Regions from separate parts of the Homo sapiens genome. Here region 1 is linked to region 2. A link means that fine-mapping ties the variant in region 2 to the expression of a gene that starts in the linked region. Tissue or cell type: thyroid. Region 2 holds a variant in brackets; the other region holds the start of a gene. All regions are shown on one strand. Distances are between the middles of the regions.

What was found. PIP is the estimated chance that this variant, and not a neighbour inherited with it, causes the effect.
Region 1: SLC20A2 starts here. The variant in region 2 is the best candidate, but not a certain one, in a credible set for the expression of SLC20A2 in thyroid (GTEx, PIP 0.87).

What each region holds. Positions count from the first base shown.
Region 1 is chr8:42,499,490-42,503,891 of GRCh38, forward strand. It overlaps SLC20A2 (solute carrier family 20 member 2), which reads right to left and starts at 1,742. Exons shown (of 11, transcript NM_001257180.2): 1 at 1,542-1,742. RefSeq lists an enhancer at 2,649-3,848.
Region 2 is chr8:42,651,903-42,656,304 of GRCh38, forward strand. No RefSeq gene overlaps it. Among named protein-coding and RNA genes, the nearest start is that of CHRNB3, 43 kb to the right of the region's middle. The variant G/A (reference allele first, on the strand shown) is at 2,552.

The DNA of each region.
Region 1 (4,402 bases), 150 kb before region 2:
AAGCACATGCTTCCTAGTAGTAGAAAAACCTACAGAAACGTCTGTGAAATTAAACAATGGATAAATTCGAATCAGCTTTTCTCTTTTGCAGGACTAAGAACTACAATAGGTCAAGTGAATACTGGTGTGAAAACTAATACCCAACTACAGTGTACCTTTAAAAATGCTCCACTGAGATTCTGATGGTGCCTTATTAACAATTAGAAGTAAGAAGTAATAGCAATAAGTCAGAATTTTTTGGATAAAAATATATATTATGAAGGATTACCGGAGCAAAACCCCTTTTACTGCTGAAGATGACATTAGAGGCTTCTGTTATCATTATAATTCATCTGGGCAGCAAATTTCTCTTCAGCTCAATAAAAACTAAGTATGAAGTAAGTTTCTTTCTAAAAATAGCCCAAGAACTCAGTACTACTTTCCTTTCTTACACTCTTTTCCTACTAAATGGAACACTGAAGTATTTCCTTTCATTGTTGACACTTTATGTCATTTGCATTTAAAATCAGACAATACATAATAACAAAGAAGTCTTTAACTAAATCTTTTCAAAATGGGAAAATGGCTTTCACAATACTAACTGTGGACCTGCCTCCTTCCTTGCTCTAGAGATGACAGGCATAGATAGCTGGTGAGCACCTATCCTATCGCCTAGGAGAACTGTTTTATTAATAACAATATTCCTAAAGCTGATACATTTACTTGCTAATTGATAAAGAAATTCCTGCCTGGTTCTCTGCTGTAAGCAAACTGTTTGGCTTGAGGTCAGTCCACATTGAAAACACACTTCTAAATAAGCAAGATGATTCAAATTTAATTTAAAATATTCAATATCAAAATCTTTTGTTTTCTTCAGTACAAATTTAAGTTGGTAATAATGTGTTAGATGAACTGCAGTTAAGGTTACAGAATCCCATGGCCTTTGGTTACTTTTGATAACTAACTCAGTCTAAAAGAGGATGCTTTAAATTATTCTCTAAAACCTTCTTCCTAAATTAATTTTTTAAAGTGCTTCTCTTTAGGCATATATGGGTTTATTTTTTAAGCACAAAATCCCCCTTAAAAGGATAAAAAACTGTCCATCTATACATTCAAGAAAATTACATTTGACACTCCATTATTTCTACAAAATAAACTTGTAGCACAGAGTATAACAGGAATTAACTTTCAACATTTTTTTCTCAAGAATTAGGTTACCATAGTAGAAAACAAAGCTCAATGACACAATACAATGTTTCTGTATTTACAGAAACCATATCCATTAATCAAATATTTTAACATAAAATAATAATCTACAGATTGCTTTTGCAAAAATAAGTAAGAATCGAAAACTTTTTCTTGGGCAAATTGAATAAGGCAGATTTATTGCAGTAGGAGACATTTAAAGAAAAACCTTTTGCCACCTCTCTTAGCTTTCTCTAACGTACCAACCTGAAAGCTTCCAGTTTTCCCAAGAGATAAACATTACTATGACGGTAACATTAGGAAGATTTAAGGAGAAAAGAACAAAGAGAAGTCTTAAAATTCCACCCAGTACTTACAAGTAGTTTCCAAGAAAACTGAGCCACAATTCTTCAGAAGACTGCTCTCCTGATCACAAACACAATCTGAAGTCTAAAATAGATATCCTACCACATTAGGCCGAGAAGTCACATTTCAGCTTGCTAACTTCTACTTTTACAACTCATAGAACTAACCCCGGCTAAAATTAACTGCAGCCAAGCAGCAGGCAGGAACACGCTGATTTGCATCATGTGTGCCGGGATTTATTCACTAGGACAACATCGGTGTCCTCTTAATGGGAAATGCGGCCAAGGGGCGTGCCCTGGTGAACAATACATAGCATCATGATTATGCTAATTACTGAATTCAGTCCAATAATACTAACTTCTTTTAAGTTGTTTTTGCAAGTACTGACAAAGAGAAGGAGTAAGCTTTTTCCCAACAGGCATTCACTTGATTTTTAAGCACATTCAAATCAGACCAAACTTTGGCAACAAGGTGGCAGTGCTGTGTGCTCTTCACAAGCAAAAGCAAAGCAAAAGGACATTCTGTCCGATTATTTAAACAGCGTGATTAGATGCAGCACTACGTGAAATTAAATAGACACAGAATATACATATCAGTAAGTCTATCCACCAGAATCCTGAAATAAAAGCTTTTTCTTTCTCTATAATGAACTGATTGCAGGGACTTGCTTTCTGGCTCTGCCTCCTCCTGCACCTCCCAAGGAGTCGCTATGAAGACACAGATTCAGTAATAAATCACAACTGAGAATAAACATCTCAAATATTTGCAAAGGCATTGTCCTTGGCAAGAAGCATTTTAAGGTGGATTTAACTCCTTGGCTAGAAAAATTGTCCTCTGTAGGTGACTGACCATCTACAAAGCATGTTGGAACTCAAGTTAACAGGTAAAGACCCCAAACATACAGCTGACACTTAAAAGAAAATCAGAACATGAAAAACTTTCTCTCGAAAATATAAGTACAACTTATAACAAAGACACAAAACCGCTTAGTATCTACTCAAGACGGTTTGGGACTAGTTTGCTTTAGACTAAGTTCTGATGACATATTTTGCTCTTATTGAACACTCTATGAAAGATATCAAAGCACTTTACAAACATCAATCAAATCTCCAAGCATCTTTGGGAGATGTCATTTTCCTCTTTTTTTTTTTTTCCCACAGACAGGTAAAAGACAGGGTAATTCCATTTCAACGACTTCAACCAACCCTGGATCACCCCATCTCCTCCTGAGACCTTTATAACATCTTCCGTATTAACCACTTACCTATAATCCTATAGACCTTTTCAGAGCCATTTGTTTTCCTCATTTTAAAATGTCATATGTTAGTTTGGACTTCAGGAGATTCACTCTACTTAACACCCAGATGCCAGGCCTGAACCCCAGGGGCTTAAAAAGCCCTCCTTGACTCTCTCTTGCAGACAGGTATCCTGCAACATGGATCCCTAAAACATGGCGATGCCCTCAGGAGGCACTGTCCATCTGCAGCCTGCTGCCCAAAGCACAAACCGGTTGATCTTCATTGGTGTGAGTTGGACATCACCAGCACAATCTCCCTCCTGTTGTTTACAAACACTGCTGGCTGCTGATCTGAGATTGCATCCCCTCGGCCTAACCTGAGGCTCTGTGCCAGCACCTGCCCCACCTCTGCAAGAGGGTGGCTGGTATGCATTCCCCTTCACTCCAACCCAGAGTCATGGGAGGCAGGCATTTCCTGCTCTGTGCTGAAAGGAGAGAAGTCAGCACTCATCAAAGATGGCTAGCTGCTAATGAACAGAATTATTCTCAATAATCCACTGCAAACTCACTCCAGAAGTCTTAATGCCAAAAAGGACCTTGTAAGGCTATTTTTGACACGATATTCTCATCCTATTATGTCATAGTTCAGGACAAAAGTCTCTAAGCCAAAATATTATTTCTGCCCTAAACCAGAAAGTAAGAAAAAGCAAATACACCAAGTGCATTTCTGCATCAGAGTTTGTATTGGAAAGGAGCAATCTGATGTATGATGGATCCTACATCCATTCATTGGAAGGCAGGGGCCCCTGAGCAATGCTCCGGTTCCTCACATGTCAGATATGCCTAGTATGACTCTGCTGTTTCAACAGCAGCCACACCTGTTCCACAGTGGAAGAACCAAAGCATTCCAAATAAAAGAGTCTCCTCCAATTTACATTAGTCATTCTGCTGCTTCCTTTTCATTAGTGAAACTACTTGAGTCAACAGTGCTTTTGTTCTAGGTATACTTATGACAGTAGATAAAAATCTGTATCAGAGTACCTTGAAAAGCAGAGTAAATTCTTCCCATTTGTTCTCATTAATTTTTGGTGGTAGAGGAGGGACAGGGAAGGCGGTGACCTATGGGATCTTTAGTTCAACGAATCCATGAAATTAAAGAAAATTACTATGTTTATGAATGTCCACTAATGAATGAACCCAGATACCAACCTTCTATGAGCAGTTACATGTATAATTTAAAATTTTCTAGTAGCTGCTTTTAGAAAAGTAACAATAAAGAGGTAAAATTAATTTAATAATATATTTTAACTCAATATATCCAAGATATGATCATTTTAATGTGTAATAATCATAAAAACTATTAATGAGATATCTTCATTCTTTTGTTTGTACTGCCCCAAGCCTGTGCAATCCAGTGCGTATTTTACAATTAGTACATTCCAATCTGGACAATCCACATTTCCAGTGCTCAGTACCCACATGTGCCTGGTGACTATCATAGTGGAAAGCCAGAGTGTACAAATATCTTCCTGACAACAGCTTTTCTACAACATGTACTAATATTTACATGTTTCTGGGCATGTGCACACTTATATACACTCAAGAAACATCAACTAAATACTGGGCATATAGGAT
Region 2 (4,402 bases):
TTGACCCCCAAAGGGACCCTGGGACTGCTCTATGAAAATTACATCTTCAGGAACACATTTAATCACACCAAACTGTGTCATGCAGCCATAAATATCGCCCAGACAGTTCAGGCTTTTAAAGGACACAGGATCCGTTTTACAGTAAACTGCTTCAACATTTTTGTTTGTTTGTTTGTTTTTGAGATGGACTTTCTCTCTTGTTGCCCAGGCTGGAGTGCAGTGGTGCCATCTTGGCTCACTGCACCTCTGCCTCCCGGGTTCAAGCAATTCTCCTGCCTCAGCTTCCTGAGTAGCTGGGATTACAGGTGCATGCCACCACGCCCAGCTGATTTTTTGTATTTTTAGTAAAGATGGGGCTTCACCAAGTTGGCCAGGCCAGTCTTGAACTCCTGACCTCAGGTGATCCACCTGCCTCGGCCTCCCAAAGTTCTGGGATTACAGGTGTGAGCCACCACACCCAGCCAAGTAAACTGCTTCAATATGCTTACTGAGAGTGCACATTTTCAACTAAAGCCGCCACAAGCCCTATTGTTGGCAAAAGAAGGCTTCTGGTCCAGTTTTAGTCTCTGTGCTGTAAAAAGAATGATAATGCAATTAGGAGCTGATCAACAAAACCAGGAGCTTTATGACTGTGCATGTGATGTGTGTGATGTGTGTGTGTGTGCATGTGTGCGTGTGTCTCCAGTAGGCATACATTTGCTTTGCAACACCTGGATGCAGGAAATGTCATGTTTTATTTTCCTAAATCAAATAACACCCCTCTGTCAGCCGGCACTGCCCAAAGCAGGGAATGCTCAGTGCGTTTCCATTGCCTCGGCTGTGCAGGAGTCCTAGGGTGTTATTAGTCCAGAGGACATGAGGAAGTGACTCTGCCTTGAGTCTACCCTGGCCACAACTAGACGTGCACTGCTCAACCTCCAGCTGTCCCTTCCAAAGTTCTGCTCTGATCCAGGCTGTGGCATGGAGACTGGGAACCAGACCCCCTACTATGCCACCTCCTTAGGCAACCTTGAAATTGTGTCCCCCATGGTGTGCTGTGTGCAATGGGCTTGGTCACTCTCACCTCCAGTGGTTCACAACACCGCCCCTTCTTTATCTCTCCTGGGGGTGAGGAGTCTCACTTCTTCACTTTCCACCCTCTCCATCTCCCTCCCCCAACCAAGCCACTTTTATCTCCTCTGATCCTTGTCCAGGGCAATCCACCTTAATCGCCCAGTGGGCCTGAAACTGCAGCCCTGGCAAGGTGGGGCAAGGGGCCAGGAGCGGAGTGGAAAGGGTGGGAGCCGGGAGAGGACAGCACAGCTCATTCCTGCTCTCCATGGGGACAGGGAAAGATGTTTTTAATCTTCTTGGGTAAATCCATGGCAGGAAAAGAAAGCTGAGCTAAAAATTAGTTTCTTTCAGTAATAGTTCAACTATTACTGAAGTATGAGAGTTTGTATTTACATTTATGTAAGATCCATGAGTTTAAAAATGGTGTTTATCTCATGCACATCTATATCCCCTTCACTCAGCTTGGAACAGTATAGGTGATTGATTCAATATTGGACAAATGAATTGTGGATGAATGAATGAATGAGTGGATGAATACAGGTGGTAAGACACACACCTCATGGAATCAGTCACCCCCCATTGGGAAGTGGAATTCAGTGGGGGTGATCACTTACTGCTATTTATGTGTCTCTGCTGTTTGCATTGCATAGAACTATTTTTAGTAAATACAATGTTTATATAACTTGCATTGAGAACTTTTTGAGGCCAGGCGTGGTGGCTTATGCCTGTAATCCCAACACTTTGGGAGGCTTGAGGCAGGCAGATGGCTTGAGTCTAGGAGTTTGAGACCAGCTTGGGCAACACGGCAAAAACTCATCTCTATAAAAAATACAAAAAATTAGCTGGGTGTGGTGGTGTGCACCTGTAGTCCCATATAAAATTTTATTATAATATTGCTATGAGAGAAGCTGTCTGGCAGTCATAATTCACATGTGTTAGGGTTATATTATTGGATAAGAATTTTTTTAAAAAAAAAGAAATGGGATCTCACTGTGATTGCCCATGCTGGAGTGTAGTGGGTATTCACAGGCAGATCATAACACACTACAACCTTGAATTCCTGTCCTCAAGCTATCAAACTCCTGGCCTCTGCTTCCCGTGTAGCCGGGACTACAGGCGCACACTACTGTGTCCAGGAATAAAATGTTAAGATAATTAGTATGAGGCCAGATACAGAAAGGTCAGCATGTTTGGTTTCCAGAACCTCCGTGTGTGACTGACAGCTAGTAGGTGACTGCTTTCTCAGGACACATCTTTCTAAATCTAGTGAGAAAATTTCTTAAGCATTTTATCAGGAATAAATGATATTCCCAGAAGGAGATTTGAAGTATATCAAGCAAAAAGACTCCGTCCCAGACCGCTTGAGAACAACTTTCCTTACACATTTGTGAAGTTGTTCTCATCCTGCCAGAGTTCACAAAGAGAAGAGAAGAATAGGCAAACTAAAATTCACACAAATCAAACCATACACAGCATAGGGGCCTCCTGGATGCCATGG[G/A]TGCTTAAAAAGGCATTTTCTTGAAAGCACTTTATTTCCTCTTAACTCATTGGACTGTTGTTAAGGGCAGATCTTTGGTTTCTCTGCAAGAAACATAAGCACTAGTTAGGAGTCATGCTGGAGAACCAGGAAGAGAGACTCAGCTGGTCACCAAGACACAGTGGAGCAGCGACTCTCACCCCAGAGATTGGTAGAATGACCCAAGAAACTTTATGTGGGACAGCAGGACTGTAACTCAGCCAATGAGACTGGCATCTCTGGACGTGGATCCAAGCATCCCATTTTTTTAAAGTTCTACATCAGTGGTCCTCAGACCTCAGCAAGCATCGGAATTGCCTGGAGGGCTTTGCAAGCACGGATGGCTGGGCACACTCCCAGAGTTTCTGATTCAGCAGGTTCAGGGCGCAGTCAAGAATCTGCATTTCTAATGAGTTCCCAGGTGATGCTGCCCTAGAAGATTCTAACGTGAGCACAAAGTCAAGAACTGGCTCAAGGGGTGGCTCTTCAGCTTCCACACTGGAATCACCTGGGTGCTTGTCAAAACCATAGGCCCTGACTCATAACTAAAATTTAAGATGTGACATTATTTGTTTACACCCTGAGTAGTTTTCACTGAAACTGAACTGAACTTGTCAAAGAACAAAGAAGAAGAAAAGAAAAGCTTATCCCATTGTTGCTCATGCTTGAACATTGCACACAGGGTGTTTACGGAAATGGGAAGGGCCGGTTTGCAGGGAAGGCGTGTTCCTGGGGGCAGAATTAGCAGGAGGTCTGGGGCAGCCAGATGGGTTTATGGATGGCTCAAGGGTAACTAAGTGTCTGTGCATTGCTGAGCGAGGTGAGAGTCTTGGCTGATGTTCCCCACTGTTTGAGAGCATAACACGCAGGGCCAGGACTAGCAGAGGAAAGTAAGATGCCCACTATGGGCTCAAATTGACCTGGGTGCCCCCAGATTCAGGAATTTATAAAATAAATATATTTTCAATTTTTAAAAAGAGACTGGGTCACCCAAGCTGAAGTGCAGTGGTGCAATCTTGGTTCACTGCAGCCTCGACCTTTTGGGCTCAAGGGATCCTTCTGCCTCAGCCTCCTGATCAGTTGGGACTACAGGTGTGTGACACCCTCCTGCAAAAATTTTAATTTTGAAATAATTATAGACTTACAGGAAATTGCAACATTGGTATACCCAACTTCCCCCAATGATGACATCTTATAGTACAAAATCAAAATCAGGAAATTGACATCAGGACATTACTGTTAACTAGACTGTAGATGGCCAGTTTTTAAACCTGTATTCATTTGTAATGTGTGATGTGTGTGTGTGTATGCATATAGTGAATGCAACTGAAGACAAATATTTTAATGCAGTATTTTTTTTTTTTTGAGACAGAATCTCGCTCTGTCACCCAAGCTGGAGTACAGTGGCATGATCTTGGCTCACTGCAACCTCCACCTCCCAGGTTCAAGCAATTATCCTGCTTCAGCCTCCCAAGTAGCTGAGATTACAGGCACCTGCCACCACGCCCAGCTAATTTTTGTATTTTTAGTAGAGATGGGGTTTCACCATGTTGGCCAGGCTGCTCTCAAACTCCTGACCTTGGGCGATCTGCCTGCCTCCCAAAGTGCTAGGATTGCAGGTGTGAGCCACTGCGCCCAGCCAATGCAGTAATTTTAAAAATAAAAATTAATGCAAAAAAATGATAAAAAATACAATTTTAAATAATGACAGGATCCGTAAAAGCTCTGTGCTAACCACATTGGATCCTGAGGCAAAAGGAAATATCAGAAACATTTTGTTCATCATAGATTTGTTTACATAAATGTAGATTTTAAACAATATTGCATTAAAGG